7 separate regions of the Homo sapiens genome follow, and all the other regions are reported to be linked to region 6. The links are microRNA targets in miRTarBase. Many come from high-throughput screens and were not tested one by one. Region 6 holds a microRNA gene; each other region holds the end of a gene's coding sequence.
What was found. Region 6 holds the annotated microRNA hsa-miR-3692-5p (CCUGCUGGUCAGGAGUGGAUACUG, at 1,318-1,341, opposite strand). A microRNA usually pairs through its seed, bases 2 to 8, with sites in the 3' UTR of a target mRNA and lowers its output. Matches are read on the target gene's strand: a 7mer-m8 pairs with bases 2 to 8, a 7mer-A1 pairs with bases 2 to 7 and ends in A, and an 8mer does both.

Region 1 (4,119 bases), not on the chromosome of region 6:
CAGCTACTCAGGAGGCTGAGATGGGAGGATTGCTTAAGCCCAGGAGGTCAAGGCTGCAGTGAGCTGTGATCGCACAATTGTACTCCGGCCTGGGTGACAAACCTTGTCTCAAAAAAAGAAAAAAAAAGTGCTGTCTCAGGTGAGAACTGATTTAGAAAACAAAAACAAAAATTGCTGTGTGGCATCTCTACCCTGTACTTGGCCCCTTATTTAGTATTTACAGCCTTGTTGGCAGAACTATAGCCCATAACCATAATGTAAATAGAAGCAAGTGTTGCAGCCATAGCATAAAGTGGGGCCAGCTAAGCAGCTTCCCCTTGCAGACAGATAAACGCGCCTGATCACTGAATGCCCTCCTCGGCAACGGGAAGAATGGAAGTGCCTAGGCAGAATTCAGCAGGCCAAAGCTTCTCTCCATTCCTGAAGTTCTAAGGTCCATGTCCTTTTTTTCTTTAGAGTCAGGGTTTCGCTCTGTTGTGCAGGCTGGAGGGCAGCGGTGCAATCACAAATCACTGCAGCCTTAATTTCCCGGGCTCAAGCAATCCTGCCTCCTCAGCCTCCCAAGTAGCTGCGACTACAGGCACATGCCACCATGCCCAGCTAATTTTTAAAATTTTTTTAGAGATGGGGTCTTGCTATATTACCCAGGCTGATCTCAAATTCCTGGCCTCCCAGAATGCTGGGATCACAGGCATGAACCACTGCCCCTGGCCAAGAAACTTATTTCTGATTCAGCCCGTCTGTCTCCACCATCACAGAAAACAGCCAGTGAAGAAATTCAAATAGGCAAATAAAAATCTGCGGTAGAGGATAAGCACAAGGTTTTTCTTTTCATAAGGCGGGTAAGGCTAATGAAGTCAAATGCATTCCAAAGCCCAATTCAACTTAGCAAGAAGCAAAAAAAAAAAAAATTTTTTTTTTTGAGACATAGTCTTGCTCTGTCTCCCAGGCTGGAGTGCAGTGGTGCCATCTCAGCTTACTGCAGCCTCCGCCTCCTGGGTTCAAGCAATTTTCCTGCCTCAGCCTCCTGAGCAGCTGGGATTACAGGCGCCCATCACCATGCCCGGCTAATTTTTTTTTTGTATTTTTAGTATAGAAGAGTTTTCACCATGTTGGCCAGGCTGGTCTTGAACTCCTGAACCTCAAATGATCCACCCATCTCAGCCTCCCAAACTGCTGGGATTACAGACATGAGCCACTGCACATGGCCAACATTTGCTTTTTAACAGCAACTTTATGTATATATAATACATATATTTTATGTTTATTAATATATATTAAAATAATTGCTTTTAAATATATAATTGCACCACACACACACACAGTTTCTCTATACATGTGCCAGTAATTCTCCATTTGCTCCCACCCACCCCATCCCTACCTCAGATTCATTCTCCACCTTTCTCTGCACTCAAGAGGCTGACTTCTGAGAACTCCAGTCTCTGAGCTCCTCTTACCCTCTGGCTTCCAACATGGTTCCACTAATGGGAGCCAGTGGCAGGCATCAGAGAATGGGGGCACAGAGGGGATGGGGCGTTTGTCCCTCGCTCTGCTGCAGTGTCAGCCGCACTGTCAGATGCAGCTGGCTGCATCCCTCTGTTACGCCTCCAGGTAGCCCTTCCTGTGCTGCTCCCACTGCCTCCTCTTGAGCTCTCAGGCCCTGGTGGTAGCAGCCTCCTGCGGTGGCCAACACTGCTGTCACTGGCACTCAACAGCCTCAGTTCCCCCAGCCTCGCCCACACCCCTCTAAACAGTCCTTTCCTTAGCTTCTCTTCAGGAGTCCCAGAGGAGGGCCAGGACCCTGACTGACACTCCCTATAAGTAGAGTGCGCTCCCTCAGTAAATGCAGTGAAGTCCTGCTGTTTTCATCAAGGGGATTCTGACTGCATGGTGCATTCTCATAGGTCTTCAGCCTTCCAATAAAATATCAGAAAACCAGATAATATCATTCAACATTTTATATCAGAAAAGATCAGCTTTCCAACATTTATTCCATGGAATGAGTGCACAGCATTTTCATGAACTACCTCAGGGCTACATCAGTACAAAATAGTTTAAATTAGTAAAATAAAGTAGTTTCAAAGGGAAATCATTGACGACTTCAGGATAAGTGCCACCACCATTTGGGAACAGAGGATAGAAGGTAGCCATGTGGTTATTCCATGATGCAGGAATCAGGTCGGCAGGTGGACTGTCATTGCTGTCTTGCGGCAGCTGGCCTCTGCCTTCAGGGTACCACCGTCTCCAGGACACAAATGGGCAGCAGAAAAATGTCACCTTGTTGATGCTCAGCAGCTCATCTATTGGGACAAAACTTCCATCTCGGCCAAGGGAAATACTCTGTTGAGTGACCAGCGGGGCCCAGCCCCCAGCCCTATTTATCTCATCAATATGGTTCAGGGAAGATAAAAAAGAGTGTTCTATGGGATAGAAAGGTGGGAATAAGAAAAAACTAAGTGGCTGGGCATGGTGAGTCACGCCTGTAATCCCAACACTTTGGGAGGCCAAGGTGGGCGGATCACGAGGTCGAGATTGAGACCATCCTGGCCAACACAGTGAAACCCCGTCTCTACTAAAAATACAAAAATTAGCCGGGCGTGGTGGTGCACACCTGTAGTCCCAGCTACTCAGGAGGCTGAGACAGGAGAATCGCTTGAATACGGGAGGCGGAGGCTGCAGTGAGCCGAGACAGTGCTGCAGTGAGCCGAGATGGCACCACTGCACTCCAGCCTGGCGACAAAGGGAGACTCTGCCTCCAGAAAAAAAAAAAAAAAAAAAAAGGAAAGGAAAAGCTAAGCAGATGACTTATGTGGCAAATGAGGAATCAAATTCTCTATTTGTGGTCTGAGATGCCTTTTCCTGGCCCAGTTTTCTGTCCAAAAGGCTCTTTTAACCTCCAAGTTATACACTATTAATGGTAGGCCCATAGTGGGGCGGGGTGTGATGAGCTGGAAAAGCATGATGTGCGTGTGCGTGTGCGGGGGTGGGGCCATCATCAGAATTTGCACAGGCTGCTGGGAAGAGCCATGGCTGTCTGCTGGGAACTCTGCTGGGGCAAGCAAGCCCTTTGACTCTCCTGCCCATCTCTAGAATATTTCTAAAATGTTTTAACCAGCAAGTTAAAAAAAAATTTAACCCTCTTTATATAGATACCCTGGACACCTTTTCTTATGGTTCCTCCAAGATGATTATAACTTCCGTCTGACACTATATATTCCTTTAATAACAAAATTTCCCAGAAGGCTCACAAATCATGGTTGGCAGTGCAGCCTTTTCAATACTGGACACATCCCATGCTAAGGCCCTCTGCACAGATTTTGTTTACTATCACTGGCGATCAGCCCAAACTTCTCACCCCATATATCAACCCACCCCGATGTGTACACCAGGTACTATGTGACCCACCTACTACTGGCTAATGATGCAACTTCTGAGAGACCCTTGCACCCTCACTGCACGTCTTGCCACACAGGTGGCTTGGTGTCACGTACTCCCTGGCACCATCTGGTTCATGCCAGGTTTAGAGTTCATCGTGTTTGGCTTCCTGGTCTTTGAGTTTAAATTCCTCGGCTGTGACCTTCCCATCTCCATTCCGGTCCTGGTTGGTGAACATATTCTTCACAATCAGCTCAGCATCAAAGCCAGGAGCGAGTTTCCCTTTGCCAGATGCCACCTGGGCGTGAATGTACTCTGAGAACTGGAAAAGAAGGGGACAGGAAAGACCATGAGTTCAGCCGCCATGAACGCCAGGCCTGGGGCCAGAAACAGAGCAGTCTGGGGGTGACAGGGCTGGAACTTGAGTCTGGGCTACCAACACAGACAAGATCTTTTTGGCAGCTATATGACCTATGATCTGTGTTTTGTTTTTTTTCTCTAAATGCAGGTGAAAAACCCTTGTGCTAAATGACTCCAAGAGCCCTTATTATTCAGGTAGCCAATACCCAGCAGCCGTCAGAGCTATTCCTTCTCCCAAGTTGGTTCCCCACCAAAGGCTGACCCCCAAGACCACCCAAGACTGTAAGAACATTCTTGGATGCAGGCATTCATTCATATGATCAAAACATATGGTCTACTATGTGCTGAGCACACTGTTCTAGATCTTGAAATACATCAATACAC
Region 2 (4,119 bases), not on the chromosome of region 6:
AAGTGGTGTGACTGAAAGAACCCTGAAAAACTGTGACTTATGATTCAGATATTTGTATTGTTACATTATAATTTATTTGGATTGTTGCATTTTAATTTTTGTTTATCCCACTACAAGGTCCTCAGTGGGTGGCGTATGTTGTAACTAAAACACTTTCTTCTTGACATAATCTAACACTAGTATTGTGAAGCCATAGTTATTTTGTGGTACTAGCCAATCTTCACAAAAGTTATATGGGAAAACTGAACTGAATATAATATAGATAGAAAAACCAAATTATGGTTTAAAGGAAATTAAAACTATTTCAATTACAAAACATTTTTTCTTCTCAAAATAATCCTAAAATGAAAAACAACTGTGAAATGTGCACTGAAAATATCTAACACAGTTAGGCTCCTGGTCTATACTTATCTGCTAATAAGATGTTTCAGTAATATCGTATTTGTAATAAAACAGTGAATTACGAAAGGAGAATTTTATTGCCCACATTAAATTTGGGAGATAAAAGAGAAACAATTACATGAGACCTTTCACTGGAGACCTCTCACTGGAGACCTCATGGCAGGACAGGCTGAAATAAAGCTTCAGTTTCTGAAGTTTAAACAAAACCTGTCAATTTTATTTTCCCAGAAGAGAAAGAATATGTTGGCTTTGGCCTTAGATTACATGGAATGCAAAATTAATTTTAGGTTTCACATGTTGGTAATAAATGTTAATTTAACAGTGAAAAATTTCTTTCCTTGTGAAATGATGAACAACCTAAACTGTCTCATAAAGGCCCCTTAGTGACCAGTGAGACACAGACTGCTTGTGTTTACCTCCCCCTTTTAATAAATTTAAGGACTTATGAGAGGAACTATGCAGTAGTAAGAATATATATATATATCTTGAATAATCCATTAACAACACAAAGATTTGTGACTGGACTAATTACATCCGGACCAGAAGAAATTTTGGTTACAACTCTTTTCTTACTAAACAAATCACAGGATTTTGTACATTTCTGAATCTTCCTTTCCCTACATCAACTTGCACATTCTGAACAGTATGTTCGTGCTTCCTGGGCATGGATTAGCCTCCTAAAGTATATAATTCCAATAATTAATTATCAGTGACAGAAGGGATGAATAAATTATGCTTCAAGCACAACAAAATTAACAGTGAAAAACTGTTTGCGTAAGTTTTTCTTAATGCATGTGACTATATTAAATTTAATATTCTATATGACTGAGAGACTCCCAATAAGTTATTAATCCTGAACTATACCACTGCCTGCTTTAGGACAAAGAATAAAATGGAATTTAAATGCTACACATGTCACGATGTTTTGAAAAGCTTTTTAAATTTAAGCACAGAGTAATGATGTGAACTGCAAATTCTAACAGCCTGGATAAGTGAAATATCAATGCTGTGTTCATTCTTAACACCAGAATGTCAGGATTAAGCTTTAGGTCTTGTTCATAAAACTAAAGCCAAAACCATCATTCTCTCTCCTTGCTGAGAGCTTAGCATGAAGCCACTATGAGATGGGAGGCTGTTTTCTTTAAACAGACAAAGAATATTACAGAGATTCACTTAGAAATACTAAAAAAAAGGGTAGGAATATCCCATTTTACTCTTACTTTTGAAGGTTGGTAAGTGCCTCAATACCATAGCACTTCTGAGTTTGCGCTTTGATTTACCATAGTACGTGCCATCAAAAGAAATTTCCCTTTAGTCTGAATGTACTAATCATTAAGTATGTATGAAATCTGCAAGGAGATTGAAATGTTAGATACAAGTCACTTTTCTCTTCAGTATTATCTTTCATACTCTAAAGTACTGGTGTGAGTTCTGTGCGATGGTACAGGCAGCAAACAGCTGGAGAGGGCAGGAGGCATTTTCTATCCCTAAGCTCTTCCAATGAATGCAGACCAAATAATCACTAAGGTAATGTTTACCAGGACACAGGCCTGAGAACTTATAAAAGGCTTCCAGAACATATTTAGCCCTGAGCATGACCATCTTCTATATATGCATTTATCCTGAGAGGCAACTATATACAGATCATGGGGTAAGTAAGTAAGTTCCCTAGATAAGAGTTAAGATACAGAATCCTAGTTTTAACTGAGTGAGTGAGTTACATTTTATTCACATGAGACATCTTCAGCACTCTGCTTGCATACCTGTCAGCTAATGGTAAGAATGTCCAGGGGGCAGTATAATGGTCAATGAAGGTGGAAGTAGAAATGGGAGGGCTGTCCCTATGTCATATTTCTCATTAATATTCACCTGACTTCTAGACTGTCTACTTCATTCACATCTGTCTTGCACCTTGGTGGTGTGTGTGCACGCGCATGTACACACGTGAATGTGTTGGTGAACTAGAATCATGAAATTCTGACAGCTCTAAAAACTGGTACAAATAAAGGAAATTACATTTTGGAATGCCCCCTCTAAGGTGAAAATGCTTAACTGAAAGTATGCTGTTATTTCTGTGGATTTGTGCTTTGCAGTTTCTCTCAAAATTTTTGTTGCCATTACGAGGACTCTACGAACTCCTGAAACTTTTCTTAGGACCTTTCTGGTAAATTCAGACCATAAAATAGAATATGTATTATTATGTGTTTTTAGAATAGAATATGTGAATGTTTGTTTGTTTAGATGTTTAGAAAGGCATAACTCTGATAAGGTGGTTTTATATTTTCACTTTCTTCTTTACTCTGTTAATCATTCTTTAGCTGCTCTGTTCTCCAGCCCACCCTCCTGTTCAAATCTGTTTCTTGCTTCACAGCTCTCTGTACATCCTTGAAAAGCAACTGCCTCAACTCTAACTTTGACGACGTTTCATGCGTTGTGTGTGTGTTTCTTTTTTTTTTTTTGGTAGAGACAGGGTTTCACCATGCAAGCCAGGCTGGTCTCGAACTCCTGACCTCAGGTGATCCGCCTGCCTCAGCCTCCCAAAGGAGGGAGGGGGCTGGGCACTGTGGCTCACGCCTGTAATCCCAGGCATGAGATTACATGCCTGGGATTACAGGCGTGAGCCACCGTGCCCGACCTACGTGCATTGTTTTCTGATGCCCAGACAAAGGAGGAGGAAAATGACAACCTTACAAATAATGTAGGAGCATGATGATTCTTACATTGGGCTTATACCTGGCAAGAAAGAAAAGAAAAATCTCAGGAGGTCCAAATAATTCCCAATATAAAATTCTGTTTGTTTGTTTACAAATATAATCCTGCTTTGGCAGAGGTGAAAGCCAGCTGTGGTTGGAACATGTCCTGCAAACATGGCATTACCAATGCTGTTTATAGCACCAACGGAGTAGGGTCTGTGGCATAGGATGGCAGCCTACAAACTGTGCCTGAAGTAGAAACAAGGTGTGAAAAGGATAGGATAGATCTTTTATCCTTCACACACTTAGAAGCCTGTGCTTTTCTATTTGCAATGGCCTGAAATGGTAGGATTGCTATGGTTAGCTAAGAAAGCCCTTGGTAGGACTGCCTATTTCTTTAACAAATTTGCCTTTGACTTTTTACAAGTGGAACGTACTTTTAAAACACCCAGTTAATAAAAAATAATGGTAGAAGACTGTCGAAGGTAATGTGGTATAAATTCATTGTTAATGAGAACAATAATGTTACTCTGCTGGAGGACAGAGTCCTGAAGGCTGAGTTTGGCGCCATCCTGTCACTATGTGAGTTTTCTCTTGATGATAGTGAGCTCTTTCTGAAGTTCACTGAACTTAGGGCGATTTTCAGGTTTATAATCCCAACACTTCATCATGATTTTGGAAATATCCTCTGGACAGTGCTGGGGAGCTGACATCCGGTATCCTGAAGACCCAAGAGAAGGAGAACAGAATTTAGAATGGAGGTAAGACACAAAATGTTCACACAGGGCATTATGCAGTTATTAACTTTTGGTACCTTATGTTGTAGTTATATGGAAACAAAACATCCATTTCTGGGGAGGCTGAGTTTTTATTTTCTACAGGTGATGCAGAATTCAATATTACAGAGTCTTAGAGTTCTAATTCAAAGAACATTTTTTATTTGTTCATTTCTCAGAAAGTCTGATGTAAGATACAATACAAATGCATATTTTAGTTGCTCTAAGTATTCACTTTCAGAATTAGA
Region 3 (4,119 bases), not on the chromosome of region 6:
CTAAGCACATTGTGCTTGCAAACAATTAAAGAGACATCTCTTTTAAAAAAATAACAGGGAAGATGTCCCTCTTGTAGACCACCCAATTCAGGCTTTTCACTTCCCCTCATAACGCTGTTTAGAAGGTAGGTGATTTTCTGCTTTATTTCTCAGGAGTGCAGCCGGGGTCCCATTTCTCCAGCACATCCTAAGCTCGGGCACACAAAGTCCCAGAGGCACACAGCTTCAGTGCCTTGGGGATAGCAGATTCCAACTCTTGGGCCCCTAACTCAAAATCCCCAACAACCCTCGGTCACCTGTGGCTCCAGTCCTGTTTTGGTTTTCCACAGATCACAAAGGCATCAAGGAAGAGGCTCACGGTAAGCCTGGCCTACTCGGAGAGCCACCAGATCCGCGTGTCCCAGCAGGACTTCCGGCTCTTCCGCACCCTCTTCCTCCTCATGGTCTCCTTCTTCATCATGTGGAGCCCCATCATCATCACCATCCTCCTCATCCTGATCCAGAACTTCAAGCAAGACCTGGTCATCTGGCCGTCCCTCTTCTTCTGGGTGGTGGCCTTCACATTTGCTAATTCAGCCCTAAACCCCATCCTCTACAACATGACACTGTGCAGGAATGAGTGGAAGAAAATTTTTTGCTGCTTCTGGTTCCCAGAAAAGGGAGCCATTTTAACAGACACATCTGTCAAAAGAAATGACTTGTCGATTATTTCTGGCTAATTTTTCTTTATAGCCGAGTTTCTCACACCTGGCGAGCTGTGGCATGCTTTTAAACAGAGTTCATTTCCAGTACCCTCCATCAGTGCACCCTGCTTTAAGAAAATGAACCTATGCAAATAGACATCCACAGCGTCGGTAAATTAAGGGGTGATCACCAAGTTTCATAATATTTTCCCTTTATAAAAGGATTTGTTGGCCAGGTGCAGTGGTTCATGCCTGTAATCCCAGCAGTTTGGGAGGCTGAGGTGGGTGGATCACCTGAGGTCAGGAGTTCGAGACCAACCTGACCAACATGGTGAGACCCCCGTCTCTACTAAAAATAAAAAAAAAAATTAGCTGGGAGTGGTGGTGGGCACCTGTAATCCTAGCTACTTGGGAGGCTGAACCAGGAGAATCTCTTGAACCTGGGAGGCAGAGGTTGCAGTGAGCCGAGATCGTGCCATTGCACTCCAACCAGGGCAACAAGAGTGAAACTCCATCTTAAAAAAAAAAAAAAAAAGATTTGTTATGGGTTCCTTTTAAATGTGAACTTTTTTAGTGTGTTTGTAATATGATCAAATTTAATAAATATTTATTTATGACTGTTCAGCAATCACATCTCCTACATATAAAGCCACACCATAGTGGTTTCTGAAGTGAGTCTTAGAACCGATTCAGGACGCAGATTTCTCCTCTGAAGGGTCACAGCCACCCTGTGCCCTACCTTGGACTCGCAAGGGTTTAGGATCATTCGTTGATGTCAAGAGCAATTGAAGAATTTCTAAGGAACAGTTAAAGATGACTTACTTTTTTTTTTTTTTCATTTATAAAAATGCTATGGACCCTTTTAAGAGAATCGGCATCATGAAATGAGAGAGAAAGTAGGATGGCTCTGAAATGTTTGAGAGTGAGTTCAGGAGTGGTTTACTCCTGACGCATCCAGCAGAGATGCCTCTTAAGCACCAGCCATGGCAGACAGTGTCCTTTGTGCTAGGAATACAGTGGTGAACCAGACAGCCATGGCCCTCTCTCAGGGAACTTACCTTCGAGTCAGGGGCAGAAAAACTAAATAAAAGTCAATAAACTATATCTATATACAGATACCTATATATTTGAGATGAGGGTCTTGCTCCAATGCCCAGGCTGGAGTGCAACGGCACAATCACGGCTCCCTGAAGCCTCAAATGCCTTGGCTCAAGCAATCCTCCCGCCTCAGCCTCCCAAGTAGCTGGGATTACAGGCGTGAGCCGCCACGCCTGGCTACAAGTCAATAAATAGTATAGCATCACAGAGCGAATAAGCACTGTGAAGAAAATGGGACGGGGGCTATGGTAGTGATGGGAATTTAGATCAGATGGGGAGGGGCCTAAGGAGACCTTTCTGAGGAGTGACAAATTGGATCAAAAGGTAAGCGACAAGAAAGGGCCACCTGTGTGAATGGGGGAAGGGACACAGAAGAGATGTTAGTGCAAGGAGGCTGACACGCTTGAAGGGAGAGTGGCGTAAGCCGACTATTGATGGAGCCTCCTCTGCACTAGGCACTGCCTTTAATGCTGAGATGAGGGGTACCCGGCTGGGGCCTGTCAGTTGAGGCCAGAGAAATTGCAGGGTTAGATCACATAGGGCCTAGGAGTTTATTCTGTTCTCCAAGCCCCTGGAGGTTGGCAACTGGAGGCTGACGTGACCTGATGAATGTGTGCAAAGATTACCCTGGCTGCTGGGCAGGGAATAGACTCTGAGGAGCATGAGTGAAAATGGAGACCAGTTGGGCAGCTGCTGAAGTGTGACATGGGGATGGGACCTTGGAGGTGAGTGGCATTAGGGAGGGATTGTGAGAAATGACTTGTAAATATACCTTGGGAAGGTAAAACAAAGATGATTTATTGATGGGAAGGATGGAATTGATAGAATGTGAGGGAAAGGGAGAACTCAAGGGGAATACTCTGATTTTTTAGCCTGTCATTGGTTGGATGGTGAAGCAGGCAACAAAAATGGGGGGGCCTGGGCAAAGATTAGGGGGGGGGGAGCCAAGAGTTTCATTTGGAGCTCATCAGTTTGAAATCTCAGTGAGACTTCCAAATTGAATAGGCAGTTGGATGCAGAGATGTGGAGCTTGGGCCTGGAGATGCACATTGTTTGGAGATATAAATGGTGTTTATAGACCTATGGTTTTATAATACATCCCTTGGAGAGATAGAGAGAAACCAGAGCCAAAGACCGAACCCAGGGTCACTCCACCACTTGGAGGCTGGGCCAGTGGCTGGAATGCACAGCAGCACGGGGCCTGGTGTATAGTAGGTGTTCAACAAATCTTTGTTGCTGAGGAAATCAGCACCAGCAGTAGTGACTGCTTATGCAGTTTCTGGAGCAGCTTGCTTCTGAAGTCAGATTCATGGATATCACAAGCTCGAAGACAAACGAACAGAGATGTTTTGCTCACTTTAGTTAATAGATTTGATCAATTAAACCTGTTTTTGGAAGTGATGTGTGGCTATCTTATTGAAGCGGCATTGCTGTCTGGGGTAAATAACCGGGGTTTGTCATCTTGCGCCAAGAGGATTAAGGACACGGACATATGTGGGTGGGTTAAGGAACAGAATGTTTAATAGGCAGAAGAAAGGAGAGAGGAGAGCAGCTCTCTCTCTCGTGAGACAGAGGCATCTGAAAAGGGAAAAGTGGTGGACCACAGCGTATTTTATAGGCAGGCTTGAGGAGGTGGTGTCTGATTTACATAGGGCTCACAGATTGGTTTGACCAGGTGTGACGTTTACGTAGTGCACGAGAAAGGCTGGCCACCCCACCCAAATCTGATTATGCAAATGGACTTTCCACTTGGCCATCTTGTCTTCTCCTTACTGCACTCATAGCTGGCAAAAAGAGAAGACGGAGCCGCCATTTTGAACATGCTTAGTCTTAGGTAGTACATTCCAATGGACACAACTGCTGGCATTCACCCATGCAAGCTTCCAACTTGCTTGTCTATGTCTGCAGCACGATTTTACAGCTGCTTTTTGTTAGAAAAGGATTTAGGGGCTGCTTTTCATTAAAAGGAAAATCTTACCAAGGACTTCCATACCCTCACTATCTGCCCGAGTAATTTCTTTTTAACTCCTATATCATTATGGTTCTCTGAGGTTGTCAAACTGAAGCTGCGGAGCAAGGCTCTGACAGCCTGTGGTTCCGTGAGAGAGGAAGGCAAAGCTCTCCCATGCACATCACCTGTCTCCTCTGTCTTTGGTGGAGAACACTAGCATGGGGCCCCCGGGAGCCTCCCACGGTCCCTGGATATTCCAACACCCAGGCGGAGATCTGTGACCCTTTCCTCACTCCCAGTGCATTTCATAGACATCAGCCTGGCATCACCGGTTTCACAGCTCCCCAGAGCTCTAAGGGACATTGCCTAATTGAATCCTCACTGCAG
Region 4 (4,112 bases), not on the chromosome of region 6:
TCCGTCGGGCCACTGGGCCACCTGCCGTCTGTGCGGGGAGCAGGTGGGCCGCGGCCCGGGCTTCCACGCGGGGACCTCGGCGTTGTGGAGGCACCTGAGGAGCGCGCACCGGCGGGAGCTGGAGAGCAGCGGCGCCGGGAGCTCCCCACCTGCCGCGCCCTGCCCGCCGCCGCCCGGCCCCGCTGCGGCCCCCGAGGGCGACTGGGCGCGCCTGCTGGAACAGATGGGCGCGCTGGCCGTGCGCGGCAGCCGGCGGGAGCGGGAGCTGGAGCGGCGCGAGCTGGCCGTGGAGCAGGGCGAGCGCGCCCTGGAGCGGAGGCGGAGGGCGCTGCAGGAGGAAGAGCGCGCCGCGGCCCAGGCGCGCCGGGAACTGCAGGCCGAGCGGGAGGCGCTGCAGGCGCGGCTGCGGGATGTGAGCCGCCGTGAGGGCGCCCTGGGCTGGGCCCCCGCTGCGCCGCCGCCGCTCAAGGACGACCCCGAGGGTGACAGGGACGGCTGCGTCATCACAAAGGTCCTCCTGTAGGGGTGTGGCCACTTCCCCACCCCAGGACAGCGCTTCTCCGTCCAATGCCAATGCCTTCAGACCCCGCTGGGACCGAAGCCGTAACCGAAGCCAGGCCCGCAGCCGCTACTCACTCGGAAGCTCCAGCTAACTGTAGGATCTTCCACACCCTAAGGCTTCAGCTTGAGAAGCACTTCGAAGCCAGAGCAGAACCAAAACTCACTTCCATGGGGTCACCGGGGGTGCCTGGGCGGCCTTTCGTGGGCATGCACGCAAGGAATTGGGGTGGCACACGGGACACCCGAGAGCTCCAGGAGCCCCGTGAACCCAGACCACCCAGTGCCATGGCCACTTAGGGCTGGGAACCCGAACCTGGTGACTTTGAAAGGATAGAGCTTCATTCCATACCAAAGACTTATCACACCATGTGCCTATACACCCAGCAGCCCAAGGTGGAGGGTGCGTGGAAATGAGAAAGCTTTTTACCCAAAAAAAAAAAAAAAAGAGTTCCTAATGCATAATCTGCCCAACACCAAGTTCTGAAGGGTGGGTGAGGGACGTCCCCTCTAGTTTCCATGACTGCTGTAGACCCGCATCATCTCTAGCCCTCATCGGGGCAGTCCCAGAGCCCGCTTTTTTACTGCCCATATTATTCAACCAATACCAGGTGCACTCTGTCTCCCCTCGGCCATCCTTCCCTTGCTTCAGACCTAATGACAAGTGTGGCACATATGTCCACTTTCAGGCCTCACATCTGCCACCTTAGCAAGACATCACCTCATCCCCTTGTCACTAGGAAGAGGGCTTCTTCCCCACATGTCGTCATAGTGCTCACCTCTGGGCTGAAGGGGAAAGCATCCCTCCGCTTAAGGCCACATCTACCTGTCATTTTCCATCCCATTCCTCTCCCACGTTTACTGGGTCTTTCCTCCTGTAGTATTCCCCCTTTCGCTGTCTCAGTCCCTCCCTTTCCCCCAGGCTCTTCTTCCTCAGCAATGTGCAGTCTCCCTTTCTTACTGAAAAGAAAGACTTAACCCAGAAGGGCCAACAAGTCCTGGCTGCCTATCCTTCCTCCCCAGTTTTTACTCCCTCACTCTGGGTCAGTTTTCTTTTCTTTTTTTCTTTATGTGTGTATATATTATATATATATATACATATATACATATATATATACATATATACATATATATATACATATATACATATATATATACATATATACATATACATATATATATATATATATATATGTATATATAATACTTTAAGTTCTAGGGTGCATGTCAGTTTTCTATGCTTCACCAGACTATTTCCAAGCTGCCACAATCTCCCAGTGACCAAATATGATGATCTATTTGCAGCCTTCATTTTGCTTAATCTCTCCCTTGAAATTGCTCTCTTGGTAGGTGGATCCTGTTTTTCCTTCAAAGAATTCCTTTTCCTGTTGCATACTGGTTCCCAGTTTTTCCATAGGCCTCTTTTTTTTCTTATTTTTTTATATTGAAAAATTCCACACATCCAGAAAAAGTTGAAAGGCTAGCACAATGAATACTCAGATACATACTCTCCACTTGGATTGAATAGTTGTTAACATTTTGCCAGATTTACTATTCTCTCCACCCCATGCATGTGTACATAGAATGACATTTCGACCCCTGAGTATTACCACATAGATTTCCTGAGCACAAAGACACCGTTCTACATGATTACATTAAGATGATCATGCCTAAAAATATAAACAGTAACTTCTTTATAGCCTCTAATACAGAGCCCTTAATCAGTATTCAACAATTGTCTCCAGAATGTTTGTCTTTAAAAACAACGACAACAACCAGGTCCCATCAAGGTTCATACATTCTTTTGGTTTCAACTCTAGTCACTTTCAGTCTACAACAACCCCAACATATTTTCCCATGATACTTTTTGAAGCATCCAGGCCAGCTGTCTTAGCAAATGTCCTCTATTCTGGAAGTGTCTGATTGCTTCCTTAGGCCTATGTCTACACTCCACTCGTGGCTCATATCCCTGCAGAGTTGTAATCTCCTCTGGGCCAGGGACTCCTGAATATCTCCAGGCCGAGTGTTCTCCCCGGGCCTGGAGAAAACCTTCATGCCCAATCCCTTGCTGCATGTCTCCACCCCTCCTTGCACATCCTGCCTCTATGAGTGGACGAGGCAAATCTACTCAACCCCACATCCCACCCCTCACCTGATAACTAACATTTACTGGGCACTAACAATGTATCAGGCACATACTACACACTTAACATGCATTGCTTTCACATACCAGCTCCATGGTAACATTGCGCTGGCTTTACAGCTAAAGAAACTGAGCTAGAAAGGGGTTAAGTATCCTGTACAAGATCACAGCTGGCCAGCAATAGAGGTGGGATCCCACTGCAGACAGTCTCCCCCACAGATGCCATGCTCCCACTGTACCACCATGTACTGCTTCCTGAGATCTCTGCTTCCTTCAGTCGACCCAGCTGACACCTGTTTCCTTCCTAACTCCAACTAATTAATTCCAGTTAATGGAATTGACTGGAATTAGTGACATTAATATTTACTGAGCATTCCCCATGTGTCATCAGAGCTGTGCTAAATGCTTTACAAGAATAATTACCTGCCATAAAGCAACCCTATGACATAGGTGCTACTATGCCCATTTTGTAGATGAGACAGGTTCAGGGGAGTTAGTATCACCTTCAAGTCATACAGTGGCTAAGAATCTGTGGTCTCGCTGAATGCTGGGCGCCTGCTCTGCTAAGTCTATTTCTACAAAACATTGCACTGCCTTCCTGTTGCCTGCCAAGCTCAGGGCCCATTTATCATGCATCTTCCCATCCTTGTCTCCCCCAACTGTCCCTTACCTGAGTCACAATTTCGCCAAAGCCAAAGGGATTGTCCTAAGCCAATGTTGATTTATCACTCTTCCTGCTCAAAAGCCCCCAAGATCACCTATCAATCACCTACTTGAGTGCAAGCTTTGACTCTGTCACCTGACATTCAAGTCCCCCTCTGCCCCCATGCCAGTCTTATCCCCTCCCCTACATATGCCCTATCCTGCAGCCAAATTGGACTCTGTTCTTCCTGACAAGACCTGGTATTGGCATCTCTATGCCTCAGTTTGCCTTCCCTCCACTTTAAAAAGCCTCTTCAGTCTCGATACAAAAAACATCCCACACATGTTCTAAAACCATGCTTTCCTTGATTTCTCCTCATGTCAAGACATTTCTTACTTCTCTAGTCTCCTAGCATTTTGTGCCTCACAACCCTCAGGACAGGCCAGCTAGTGTATGGCTGTGGGTTTTTATCTCACCTCCCCTGCCTGACCCTGAGCCCTTGTGGGGAGTATACTCACCCTACTCCTACAGTGCCTTGCATTCCGTAGCTGCTCAGTACATTAACCCATTCAATGTCTTTAAGATTTTTACAAGTTAGTTTTCCTGTAATTACTAATCATTTATCTTTAATTCTGAGTAAAATTCACAACAACAAATAAAAGGAAATAGTAGTAATTTTTTAAGCTGTTTAGTCAATAAAGATTTAATGCGTCAGTTATTGGACTGTTTGGTTTGAAGCCAATCAACCATTCTGGTATGTAAATCTAC
Region 5 (4,118 bases), not on the chromosome of region 6:
ACCACACCTGCATCCTCCTCCACCCAGCAGTTGTCCTGCCCACCCTGCAGGGGTGCTGAGGCTCAGTGGAGACTGCGGGCCTGAATGCACTGGAATATGCCAAACACTGGCACGAGGGCTGGTTTCCTTACTTCTTTGTCCCCAAACTTAGGTACCCTTGCTGGTGCCAGGGCTCAACTACCCCCTGGAGACCTTTGTGGAGAGTCTCAGTAACAAGGGCATCTCAGACATCATCAAGGTAGGCCCCGCACTTGTACCACGTGGAAGGTGAGCAGGACCCTGGGGAGGACAGTAAGGGTGAGTGCCAACAAAGACCTTAGGGGGCTCCTGGGTGGGGGTGGGGGTATCTGCACAGTGGAGCCCTGTGGCCTGTCATTAGGGCCAGCGCAGACCAGGCAAGGGGTCAGGGGTGTATGCCCCCTGCTGCCATGGCCACTCCTCCATAGGTGCTGGTGCTTCGAGAAGGCCAAAGTGCACCCCTGCTGAGTGCCCACGTCAACATGCCTGGGAGCGAGGGGCTGGCGGCCGCCTGAGACCTGAGCTGCTGTGAAAGCCCCTGCACAATCAGCCAGGGAGAACTGGGCGGGTTTAGTGGCCCCAGGCCCACTCCTCATGCAGCAGTGTGCTGGGGCGACAGCTCGTCTCCCCTCTCTTAAGCACCCGCTTCCTCACCACCCCCACTGTTGGGCCTATAGTAGCAGGTTAGTGAGTACCTAGGGCGGCTCAACTCCTCCCACAGCACCAACCCAGCATGGTCCCACTGAAGTCCTACTACGCCCTCCCCTCCCCAGCCTTTTCCAGAAACCATACTGGGCTCAGATCAGAGCTCCGAAGCGGTCAAAGTGAGCTGAGCAGGACAGGCCCAGCCTTTCTCCACTGCCACGTCCCTCATGCACATCACTCATCTCCTGCTGCAGGCCAAGGCCAAAATTGGGCTAGTCCTGGCCAGGGAAATCAGAAGCTCTTCTTGGGTGAGATTGAGCCTCCTGTTGCTCCCTGGAGTTCCGGAGGCTGGGCTGCAGCCCACTCAGCTTGCGGGCAAAATACGTGCTCTCCTCTCTCCTTGTCAGCTGAGCAAACCCAGGGAATAGCCCTCCTCTCCCCAGGAAACTTCTCTGAAATCTTAGACTTAGCCAGTCTTAGGCCTACGATGCCACACAAAGGTTGTTCAGGGAGAAGGGGGTGCAGGAGGCAGAGGGTGCCCCGCAGGGAGCTGGTGGCTCCAGCCCCACTAGAGCTCCTAAAGATCACACAGCAGCTGCTCCTGACAGGGATGCTCATGCCCAGAAAGCAAGCCCAGGAGAGGAAGGCAGAGTGTGACAGAGCAGAGCCAGGGCCAGGCGCACCAGGAGAGGCGTTTCTGGGGCTCCAGAGAAGTGCCACGGGAGGCAGAAGTCCAGAACTGCCCATATAGATGCCCTTCTACATCCTGGAGCCCAAATCAGTCATGTGGGTGGGAAGTTCCCAGGGCAGTGGTCACATCGTGAGAATTAGCAGGAAAGGCGGGGCCTTTCTTGTCATAGCTATTTCTGAGGATGAAATGGGAGACATATGCCCAGCACCTGATGTAAGTTTATATAATGTAATATTATGTACCTACCACTAAGAAATACATGAACCGTGCCATGAGGACAGTAAGTGTTCATAAAGCAACATGAAGCAAGAAACAGTGCAGGGTGCCCAGTGCACACACTAGAGAGAAATTGTGAACATTAAGGACAAGGAGAATTGGTGTCTTTCTAAAACATACTTATTTAAAAACACATACCCACTTACTAATGTGGAATTACACAGTTTGTAACAAGAAAACAGTCTCTCCCATTCTCTAGTACTGCTCCCCTACCCAGCAGTCACTTCCAGTTCATTCAGCTATTTTTAAAATGTGCTTATATGACTCTTGCTTGATATATCAATCTTAGACATTACCTGTTGACTCCCTGTTGTCATACATGAGGCTTTAGCTCTCTTTTGTCAGCAACCCTCCCCCATCCCTAGTTATTAGGTTAAAAAATACTCAGATTACTATTTCTATTACTATGTGAAAGTTAACTGCGGAGCCAAGAGTTGGACTATAATTAAATTACCTTCCTTGTACTTTCTTTTTAATGGAGTTAATGAGTTGCCCTGAGTTTCTCATTTACTTTGTTTTCTGATGGACTGATTGCTAATTCTTCCCCCACCATCTGACAGCTCCTCTTTTTTCTAGACACTTCCCTTCATCCCCTGCTTCACTGAGGACTGTTTGTTTTCCAGGTAAATTGCCTTTGCCTCTCTCCTGGGCTAGATCCTGATTCCTGGGCCTGATGGCTTCCTATTTCTCAGTTCACCCTCATTTGGTGAAACATATCCTCAAATATCTTCTTTAAAAAGTCATGGCCAGAAGGCTGGGCACTGTGGCTCACGCCTGTAATCCCAGCACTTTGGGAGGCCGGGGCAGGCGGACCACCTGAGGTCAGGAGTTTGAGACCAGCCCGGCCAACATGGTGAAACCCTGTCTCTACTAAAAATACAAAAATTAGCCAGGCGTGGTGGCAGACACCTGTAGTTCCAGCTACTTGGGAGGCTGAGGCAGGAGAATCGCTTGAACCCGGGAGGCGGAGGTTGCAGTGAGCTGAGATTGTGCCACTGCACTCCAGCCTGGGCAAAACGAGCGAAACTGGCTGGGCGTGGTAGCTCACACGTGTAATCCCAGCACTTTGGGAGGCCGAGGCAGGCAGATCACAAGGCCAGGAGTTCGAGACCAGCCTGGCCAACATGGTGAAACCCCATCTCTACTAAAAATACAAAAACTAGCCAGGCATGGTGGCAGGCGCGTGTAATCCCAGCTACTTGGAAGGCTGAGGCAGGAGAATTGCTTGAAACAGGAAGGTGGAGGTTGTAGTGAGCCAAGATCGCGCCACTACACCACTCTAGCCTGGGCAAGAGCGAAACTCTGTCTCAAAAAAAAAAAAAAAAAAAAAAAAAAGCGAAACTCTGTCTCAAAAGAAAAGAAAAAAAAAAAAGTCACTAGAGGCCGGGTATAGTGGTTCACACTTGTAATCCCAGCCCTTTGAGAAGCCAAGGCAGGAGGATCGCTTGAACCCATAAGCTGGAGACCAGCCTGTGCAACATGGTGAGACCCTGTCCCTACCAAAAAAAATAAAGTCATTAGAGTTTTTAAAGATTTTTTTCATTTATTTTATTTTATTTTATTTTATTATTTGTTTTTTGAGACGGAGTCTCACTGTGTCGCCCAGGCTGGAGTGCAGTGGCGCGGTCTCGGCTCGCTGCAAGCATCACCTCCCAGGTTCACACCATTCTCTTGCCTCAGCCTCCCGAGTAGCTGGGACTACAGGCGCCTGCCACCATGCCCGGCTAATTTTTCGTATTTTTAGTAGAAACAGCGTTTCACCGTGTTAGCCAGAATGGTCTCGATCTCCTCACCTCGTGATCTGCTAGAGTGTGCTGGCGTGATCTCGGCTCACTGCAACCTCTGCCTCCCGGGCTCAAGTGATTCTCCTCCATCAGACTCCCGAGTAGCTGGGATTACAGGCATGCACCACTGCACCTGGCTAATTTTTGTATTTTTAGTAGAGACAGGGTTTTACCATGTTGGCCAAGCTGGCCTTGAATTCCTGACCTCAGGTGATCCGCCTGCCTCAGCCTCCCAAAGTGCTGGGATTACAGGCATGAGCCACCACACCTGGCCTGGACACAACTTTTGTTTTTGTTTTAGTTTTTTTGAGACAGAGTCTAGCTCTTGTCACCCAGGCTGGAGTGCAGAAGCACGGTCACAGCTCACTGCAGCCTCGACCTGCTGAGCTCAAGCCATCGTCCCACCTCAGCCCACCCCCATCCCCCACACTACAGACGCACTACCACACAAGGCTTTTTTTTTTTTTTTAAGACACAGGGTCTCACTATGTTGTCCAGGCTTGTCTCAAACGCCAGGCCTCAAGTGATCCTCCCGCCTCAGCCTCCCAAAGTGTGGGATTACAGTGCCCAGCCCCCATTAATTTTGTATTTTGCAGAGACAGGGTCTCACTATGTTGCCCAGGCTCACAGTCTATTTTGATAGTGCATGTATAATAGCATACGATATCAGATACTTAAGAATTAATCCAATTTAAAAAGGCATG
Region 6 (4,119 bases):
TGGGTTGCTGTTGGGGCTGCCGATTCATTTTTTCCTTCTCTAAAGGGACACAGCATTCATTCACAGATGATTCCTTTATCTCACCTAAAACAATGCCCGTGGTATCGACTATTATCCTTGGCAAAGTGCCTTTGCATTAAAACATGGTGACAGCATTTCTCGGCCCTGATGTTGGGGAGAGTTCCTACCATGTAATTATCCAGCTCAATTAGAAGACAAGGTCAGAACAAACAGATCCAGAGGGAAGGTCCATGCCTGCTAGACACACAGATGTGGTCCCACATCATTTTCTTTTTTCTTTTTTTCTTTTTAGGTAGCCTGTTACTGTTTCATACACATGGTTTTCAAAGTAACAGGCAGCCAGATAGTAAGACTGCAGGGAGCAAATGAAAATTCACATTTTTTTGATTGAGTACCTATATTGCAGGCAGTTTCACATATAACATTTCATATAATGTCTACAGAAATGTACACAGCTAATTGTCTATGACATTGGTATTACTGAGACCATCTCACAGATGAGGAAACTAAGGTTCATTAATTTGACTGATAAGACTTATAAGAGGTTCATTACTTTGAGCCTGGTTTAGCTAATAAGTTTCATAACCAGAAGTCAATCAGATGTGGCCGCCATCAAAGCCCATGGGCCCAAGGCATGGTCTCTCAATTGTACCACAATGAGGCCTACACTTCTGTTTTGCACTCTACACATTTTCTTAGTGGAATACAATAACAGCTGTACCTGTTTTCACCTTTTTATAAGGATCTCAATGATCCTCATTAAATGTAATTAAGAACACAGTGAAACCTGAAACTATTCTGCGTGAAGGTGCCTTGTCCAGTCTGGGGAGAAGACAAGCTCGGAGTCTTGGGTGACAAAGTCGCTCATTGATGGATTGCCAGCAGTCTGGTAGTAACGCCTTAGTGACTGAAGGTCAAGAACATTTCTCTTGGGCTCCGCTTCCCAATTCCAGTTGAAGAATAACAAGCTCTGTGGTTTCTACACAACAGAAACCACAGATTCCCAGGGGCCCTGTCAATCAAGCTTGACACTAAATGGTGATGACTGCTCCTGTTATTGCAAAATACATGTATACTAAACAAAGACCGTACTGGTTAGTTTTGCTTAAATACTGGAGGATTCTGACCAGTACAATGCTAAAACATAAACTTTCATTTATGAAAAAAGATAAACTTTCTAAAATTCCCAGGTTATACTCAAGAAGTAACTTGCTCCCTGTGAAGAGAGGGTGGGGTTGCAGAGACTCCAGAGATCTCCACTTCTGCAGTGTCAGTGTGGAACTGTATCTATTGCTCCAGTATCCACTCCTGACCAGCAGGAATGGCAAAGAACCTCAGAAGAGTACAGGTGGTAGGTGCTGAGTAAAACTGGAAGTCTGAGTGTGTCTCCTAGACACTAGCAACTACAAGGATATACTTTCAATGAAACTCTTTGAACTCATTGGGAGAAACCTGAAAAATACCATGTGCTGTTGAGGAATTAATGCCCACTCCCACCCCCAGTCTTCATCTAATTATGCTTTTATAATTAATTAATTAATGCCCACTCCCACCCCCAGTCTTCATCTAATTGTGCTTTTTAAATTAATTAATTAATGCCCACTCCCACCCCCAGTCTTCATCTAATTGTGCTTTTTTAATTAATTAATTAATGCCCACTCTCACCCCCAGTCTTCATCTAATTGTGCTTTTTAATTATTTTATTTTATTTTATTTTATTTTTTTGAGATGAAGTCTTGCTCTGTCGCCCAGTCTGGAGTGCAGTGGTGCGACCTCGGCTCACTACAAGCTCCGCCTCCCGGGTTTTTGCCATTCTCCTGCCTCAACCTCCCGAGTAGCTGGGACTACAGGCACCTGCCACCACGCCTGGCTAATTTCTTTGTATTTTTAGTAGAGACAGGGTTTCACCATGTTAGCCAGGATGGTCTCGATCTCCTGACCTCGTGATCTGCCCGCCTCAGCCTCCCAAAGTGCTGGGATTACAGGTGTGAGCCACTGCGCCCACCCTATCGTGCTTTTTAAATTAATTGATTAATGCCCACTCCCATCCCCAGTCTTCATCTACTTGTGCTTTTCCAAGTATATTCATCTATGGTTAAACTTTCATATCATTTCTTTACTTTTCTTTTAAGCCACACACTTCTGAGATTAAAAAACAACAACAACAAAAAAACTGTTCAGCTCATTTTGAAATACAACAGAAGTATTCCTGAGGACTTCCCCATGGCAAACACGATTATTAACTGATTACTAAAAAGAGAAGGGCAAAAGGCAAAATAATGGACATTAGATCTAGGGAAAAATGGTGGAAACAACCTTAAAGAATACGGTGGAGAAACATCTGGAAAAAGCATATTTAATTAGAGAACACCAAGAGGGACTGAAACAAAGGAAATCATGCCTGGCTGGCCTGATGGAAGGCTTGGAAGGTGTGACTGCCATGAAAGCTACAATCAATTAAATAAGTGCCACCTTTCTTGAATTTTGCCAAGCAGATGGCAAAGTTGGAGAATCAACAGGGAAACTGCAGAGTGATACAATGGAGAGAGAGAAGGATCAGAAAGCCCCTCCTACAGCTACATCCCTATCCCTCTTAGGCTTGCGTCATACATTGTCCAGTTGGCTTCAACATTCAGAATAACTGGAGCCCTAAAGAACTGTCAAGTTCTGAGAACAGTCTTTCCATTTCCAGAAACAACTTCCTGAGAGACCGTTACATGGCTGCCAAGAAAACACTGCTTCATGTTTAAAGCACTTGTGAAACTTGAGGTCAAAAAGCAGAGGTCCACCAAGCAAGGCCACAGAAAAACAGCTTGAAAATGCTCTAGCTGAGCCTATACGCTCTGTGGCAAAACCTCGTGACTGTAGTGCTTACTCTGGGCAGTTCTGGAAGGCTTTTTCTACCAGAAGTTTCCATCAGTTGAGGTTTTGACTCTTACTCTCCCCTGGGTGGAGACTCTGAGGCTGCATGGTGCAAGATGAAAGGACTTCAATATTGTCTGACTATAAGAGCAAGCTCTGCAAAGCACTTTTTTGAAGAGATTTTTGAATGGAAAATCTGGGTGGGAAAATAGGAAAACAGGTCAGTTGAGCAAAGGAATATCAACTATTCCTGTTCGCCACATGAGCTGAGAATGCAGCCTCTCCTTCAGAGTAGAAACAGGAGCTGGGGAGCTCCTGGAGTCGATGGGAGGTGCCCAAGTCTGGTAGGAGATGGGGGCACTGATGCAGCCATGGCCCCCCGGCTGGTGTAATCTGCTTTCAGGCACCCAGTTGCAGGGTGGCTCAGCTGAGGGTCACCAGCTTGCAGCGATAGAAGAGAACGTTGGCCTTACCTACGGCCATGGTTTCACATTGTGTGGGAGGATCCATAGATTCTCAAAGGGGTCCTGGACCCCAACAGTATTATAAACTACTACTCTTAGGAGGGGAGGTACGTAATCAAGTACCTATTCAGAAGCACACTCTGAGGCCAGCTGCTAAAGATGCTGCCCCAAGTCCTTCAGTGCTCCCGGCCACCATCCACTGCCCCGGCCCCTCTCCCCACATCCCTAGAACCTCTCTCTATGAGCCAGCAAATAAAAATTAACATCTACCCAGGTCCCTGGTCCAGCGGTTGGTGAATAATCTGGCTGTCCACACTGCCCTTCAGCCTTCTCAGCCGAGCCCTGGCGCACGTGTGTCAGTCCATTCAGAGAAGATGGGTTCCCACAGTCGCTGAAGTAGGCAGGAGCACAGAGGCCACCCTGAGACTAGCACAGACGTAGGGCCATGTAGGGAAGCCCCTTCCTAACCCACGAGCTTGAGGGTGGGCAAGACTCCCAAATGTGAAGACACTCGTGTGTGAAAGAGAAAAACAACCCAAGGCTAAATGAGAGAGTGAAAAGAAGGTTCTAGAAGAGATACAAGAGAGGTACTATCCTATCCCTAGCTTTGTCTGGAGTCTACAGAACTTTACCTTGTCAAGACCGAGTAGACCAACGTTTAAGACAAGAACCTGACTCACTTCCATACCAGGATAATCTGGGAGATGGGGACAGAGGCCACCAGAAGAGGGTCGTGGTGTTGTGGGAAGGCCTCAGGCACTGGGAGTGGACG
Region 7 (4,119 bases), not on the chromosome of region 6:
TCTGAAGTAAGCTAGTCCCATAGTGCGTGTTCACAGCTTTTCTGCCCTGTCCTCTGCAGCCACCTGGAAGGGAAAATGGCAGCCACCAGCTTCCCTGAGGCCTGAGCCAGCTGCCGAGGTTTGGGATTAGCTGTAGGTAACAGGAGTGATTCTAGCCTCACTTTTCTAATTCTAGTACCAAGGGAAGAACACCTACCTGGAGAAGATTGACGGCTTCCGAGCCTATTACAAGCAGTGGCTGACAGTGATGCCCGCAGAGGAAACCCCGCACCCCTGGCAGAAGTTCCGGACCAAGCCCCAGGGGGACCAGGACACCGGCAAGGAGGCTGATGACGGATGTGCCCTTGGGGGCAGGTGATGGGAGCACAGCTGGAACAATGTGCTCGGCCCCCAGTGCTCTGTGGGAGCCCCAGGACAAGTGAGCTGGTGTCACCTCCTGCCTGGGGGAAGAGCCAGGCCCTGAGGAACAGCCGCAGCGTGTCACAGGTGTTGGTGAGGACACACACTAGGCCCAAGGTGCCTGTGCTCCCAGCAGGTCCAAGTGCAGCTCCAGCCACCTTTGCGTGTCACCTTCACGGGACTTCCAGCTCCAGCTACCTTTGTGTGTCACCTCACACACCACAAGGGGGCTGGGGCATCTGGTCCCTGGGGCCTGGGCCGCCCCGCCGGGTTCCATAGGCCGATGCTCTGAAAGAAGAGACGTGGGGCTCGAGAGATTTAAAGATTTTATTTTTACAAATCACAGCTGATAGACAGCGAAGCCTTCCCCATAGAGACCGTGCTCCAACTCGGGCCTGGGGCACTGCTCGCTGCTCCCAGGAAGGGGGTGGCGTGACAGGCAGGAACCTGCGAAGTCCAGAGTCCAGGGTGGAGCGCGCCAGCCTCAGCCAGAGCAGCCACGACAGCCACAGTGTGTGCACTCGATGATGCGGCCCTGCAACGGAGGAGGACAGTGAGACGATGCCACTGCGCCACGCTCGCCCCTGCACACTCACATATGTGGCAACCCTCCCACGAAGGACCTGCCACCATGCCATATAGGGACACACCTCAGAAACCCTTCCTTGACAGCTCTGGACAGGGAAAATTTGGCTCCCTCATGAAGGTAGAACCAGCTGCTGTTGACACCGAGGTTACATCTGTATGTCTATTTATAATATGTTCTGCAAATCCAACACACGTTTGCCAATCAAGAAAAAGAAATCGGTGTGAATGAGTCTCGTTATTCTGCTAAGTGAGCATGACAGACCCTGCGATGAGCAGACGTGGCTCTGCTACTGTTTGGGGACTTCAGGGGGGCCTCTGGGCTGGTACACTCTGGTGGGGGAAGAGGGCAGGAGACTATGCACTTGAGTCACACCCTTCTGGCCCAGAGCCCCCCAGAAAGAAGGGTCTTGTCCCCCAGGCCTGGTGCGGCCCAACACTTGGCCAGCCAGAAAGCCCTAGAACAGTGGCTTGTGTTTATTTTACTTTTTCAAGTTCTTTTTTTGGAAGAACAAGACCATAGTTTAAGTAAACAGGATCCTCTGGTGAAACCCAGGTAAGTCTACAGCGGGCTGTTTTGGCCACAGGGCTGAAGCAGCACCCCAGCCCACCAGCCCCTGACCTGGACTCCTTGTGGAATCTGGGCACTCAGAGGAAGGGGGCTTCTGCCACTCTGCCACCTGTCCCTGCCTCCATCAGAAAACCAACACCCCAGTCTTCCGTCGGGGAGGCGGCCCTTGCTCGCCCCCACTGCTCAGTACCCAAGTCCTCAGCATCCAGCCACAGCTCTCCATTGTCAGTCTCACTGCAGCATAAAGGGGACTCATGTGAAGAGGCCCCTGTGTGGAGCTGGGGAAAAGAAGGCCAGGCTGGCAGATGGGCGGTGGGGCCAACAACTGTGCTGAGGGGCTGCACTGAGCGGCCACTGCTGTGACTCTGCCTCGGGCCACAGCTGCCTTTCAGAGGGGCTTGGAACCGGATGGAGCTCAGCTCCTGTCCCTCAGCACCACTCCTGAGGCGCCTGGCCTAGGAGTGGTACTTGGAACAGAAAGTTCTGAAAGAAGAAACACAGTGGGCTGGGCGCAGTAGCTCATGCCTGTAATCCCGGCACTTTGGGAGGCTGAGGCGGGTGGATCACCTGAGGTCGGGAGTTCGAGACCAGCCTGAGCAACATTGAGAAACCCCGTCTCTACTAAAAATACAAAATTAGCCAGGCGTGGTGGTGCATGCCTGTAGTCCCAGCTACTCAGGAGGATGAGGCAGGAGAACCGCTTGAACCCGGGAGGTGGAGGTTGCAGTGAGCCAAGATGGCATCACTGCACTCCAGCCTGGGCGACAAAGCAAGACTCCGTCTTGGGGGGGCGGGAAAGATAGTGATGGTAATGTTAAAGTATCACTGTGAGGACTGAAAGGGACAGGAACTCACTGGTTGTCCTTCCCTGATGTCACCCTGCCACCACCTTGGGATTAGGGCTCCCCACCACCATTTCCTAAGTGAGGAAAGGGGTTCAGTAATTTGCCCAAAAGTGGAGTTGAGATTGACCCCAGACCTAACAAACACACAGCCACACGCTGCCTCACATGGATTCCTGAATACAGGGACCCACTCCCACGAGGGAGAGCCAGCAGGACATCCAGGGACAAAACGACATTCCAGCCCAACCAAATAACATAAGATCCCTTGCAGTCGACTAAGGCAGAATTTTGAGCTGAAAACAACACCAAGCTTGAGTGTCAGACATTACCACTTCCAGCTTGCTTTTGGGCACGCGGCAGATGCAGTTCGTCCCGAAGTTGGTGTCCCGTGTCTGAATGCACCGCAGGCAGCACAAGTTCTCATATCCTTGCTTTTTCCATTTTGCAATCAGGTTTTTGTCTGCATAGCCTTCTTTAATACAATATTCATAGAGTTCTGTCAAAAAGATGGGGAAAGAGCATCAGGCCATGGTCTAAAAACCTTCCCCACCCTTGATCAAAAAAAGCATTCAGGCCGGGTGCAGTGGCTCACACCTGTAATCCCAGCACTTTGGGAGGCCGAGGCAGGCGGATCACCTGAGGTCAGGAGTTCAGGACCAGCCCGGCCAACATGGTAAAACCCCGTCTCTACTAAAAATACAAAAATTACTCGGGCGTGGTAGCAGCTGTAATCCCAGCTACTTAGGAGGCTGAGGCAGGAGAATCACTTGAACCCAGGAGGCGGAGGTTGTAGTGACCTGAGGTCGTGCCACTGGACTCCAGCCTGGGTGACAGCGAAACTCCATCTCAAAAAAAAAAAGGCATTCAGTATTGCAACGGGACAGTCCTTGGAGGAGGAACAAAAAAAAAAAGTACTTAGGCCAGGCAAGGTGCCTCACACCTGTAATCCCAGCACTTTTGGAAGCCAACGCCAGAGGATCATTTGAGTTAAGAAACCAGCCTGGGCCAAGGGCCCATCTCCACAAAAAATTTAAAAATTAGCTGGGTGTGGTGGTGCACACCTGTAGTCACAGCTACTCAGGAGGTTGAGGTGAGAGGATCCCTTGAGCCCAGAAGGTTGAGGCTGCAGTGAGCCATCATTGCACCACTGCACTCCAGCCTGTGGAACAGAGCAAGACCCTGTTTCAAAAAAAAAAAAAAAAAAAAAGCCAAGAGCGGTGGACCACGCCTATAATTCCAGCACTTTGGGAGACCGAGTCGGGTGAATCACCTGAGGTCAGGAGTTCAAGATCAGCCTGACCAATATGGTGAAACCCCATCTTTACTAAAAATACAAAAATTGGCCAGGTGTGGTGGCAGGTGCCTGTAATCCCAGCTACTTGGGAGCTGAGACAGGAGAATCGCTTGAACCCAGGAAGTGGAGCTTGCAGTGAGCCAAGATTGCGCCACTGCACTCCAGCCTGGGTGACAGAGTGAGACTCCATCTCAAAACAAACAAACAAAAAACAAACACACACACAAAACTCAGCCAACGTTGGCTCCCCCTAATTTTCGTGGTAAGAAAAACCATGACTTGCACAGGTTGCGAGAATAAGGATTGTGGTTAGTTCAGTAACTCCAAAAGTGACGCGAGCTTCAAAGTCCAAGAGAGACTGACTAATTACCTCTGCTGATGGCTTTCCGCTTGTAAAAGAGGTCGAAGATGTAGCGGGTTTTCTG

Region 1: miRTarBase lists FKBP9 as a target of hsa-miR-3692-5p. Seed matches in the 3' UTR shown: 8mer at 3,046-3,053, 8mer at 3,034-3,041 and 7mer-m8 at 3,012-3,018.
Region 2: miRTarBase lists FER as a target of hsa-miR-3692-5p. Seed matches in the 3' UTR shown: 8mer at 3,625-3,632.
Region 3: miRTarBase lists FFAR4 as a target of hsa-miR-3692-5p. Seed matches in the 3' UTR shown: 7mer-m8 at 944-950, 8mer at 1,638-1,645 and 7mer-m8 at 3,033-3,039.
Region 4: miRTarBase lists ZBED3 as a target of hsa-miR-3692-5p. Seed matches in the 3' UTR shown: 7mer-m8 at 942-948.
Region 5: miRTarBase lists BBS1 as a target of hsa-miR-3692-5p. Seed matches in the 3' UTR shown: 7mer-m8 at 1,844-1,850.
Region 7: the mRNA of PTCD1 is a reported target of hsa-miR-3692-5p. Seed matches in the 3' UTR shown: 7mer-m8 at 529-535 and 7mer-m8 at 2,607-2,613.

The regions. Positions count from the first base shown.
Region 1 is chr7:33,004,753-33,008,871 of GRCh38, reverse strand. It overlaps FKBP9 (FKBP prolyl isomerase 9), which reads right to left. Exons shown (of 10, transcript NM_007270.5): 10 at 1,944-3,697. The coding sequence ends at 3,521. Among named protein-coding and RNA genes, the nearest start is that of FKBP9, 49 kb to the right of the region's middle.
Region 2 is chr5:109,187,130-109,191,248 of GRCh38, reverse strand. It overlaps FER (FER tyrosine kinase), which reads right to left. Exons shown (of 20, transcript NM_005246.4): 20 at 1-3,816. The coding sequence ends at 3,674. Among named protein-coding and RNA genes, the nearest start is that of PJA2, 220 kb to the left of the region's middle.
Region 3 is chr10:93,586,891-93,591,009 of GRCh38, forward strand. It overlaps FFAR4 (free fatty acid receptor 4), which reads left to right. Exons shown (of 3, transcript NM_001195755.2): 3 at 330-3,182. The coding sequence ends at 719. Among named protein-coding and RNA genes, the nearest start is that of RBP4, 12 kb to the right of the region's middle.
Region 4 is chr5:77,073,585-77,077,696 of GRCh38, reverse strand. ZBED3 (zinc finger BED-type containing 3) reads left to right here. Exons shown (of 3, transcript NM_032367.4): 3 at 1-4,112. The coding sequence ends at 523. Among named protein-coding and RNA genes, the nearest start is that of SNORA47, 4.9 kb to the left of the region's middle. RefSeq lists a silencer at 1-259.
Region 5 is chr11:66,531,505-66,535,622 of GRCh38, forward strand. BBS1 (Bardet-Biedl syndrome 1) reads left to right here. Exons shown (of 17, transcript NM_024649.5): 16 at 152-238; 17 at 447-2,094. The coding sequence ends at 533. It also overlaps a transcript of ZDHHC24 not described here. Among named protein-coding and RNA genes, the nearest start is that of ZDHHC24, 12 kb to the right of the region's middle. RefSeq lists an enhancer at 1-449.
Region 6 is chr6:157,526,359-157,530,477 of GRCh38, reverse strand. MIR3692 (microRNA 3692) reads right to left here and starts at 1,346; the gene lies at 1,278-1,346. All of the region lies in intron 1 of ZDHHC14 (zDHHC palmitoyltransferase 14), which reads right to left.
Region 7 is chr7:99,416,206-99,420,324 of GRCh38, reverse strand. It overlaps PTCD1 (pentatricopeptide repeat domain 1), which reads left to right. Exons shown (of 8, transcript NM_015545.4): 8 at 176-3,586. The coding sequence ends at 358. It overlaps BUD31 (BUD31 spliceosome associated protein), which reads right to left. Exons shown (of 6, transcript NM_003910.4): 4 at 4,065-4,119; 5 at 2,730-2,896; 6 at 709-934. The coding sequence ends at 884. It overlaps ATP5MF-PTCD1 (ATP5MF-PTCD1 readthrough), which reads left to right. Exons shown (of 9, transcript NM_001198879.2): 9 at 176-3,586. The coding sequence ends at 358. Among named protein-coding and RNA genes, the nearest start is that of MIR12119, 9.1 kb to the right of the region's middle.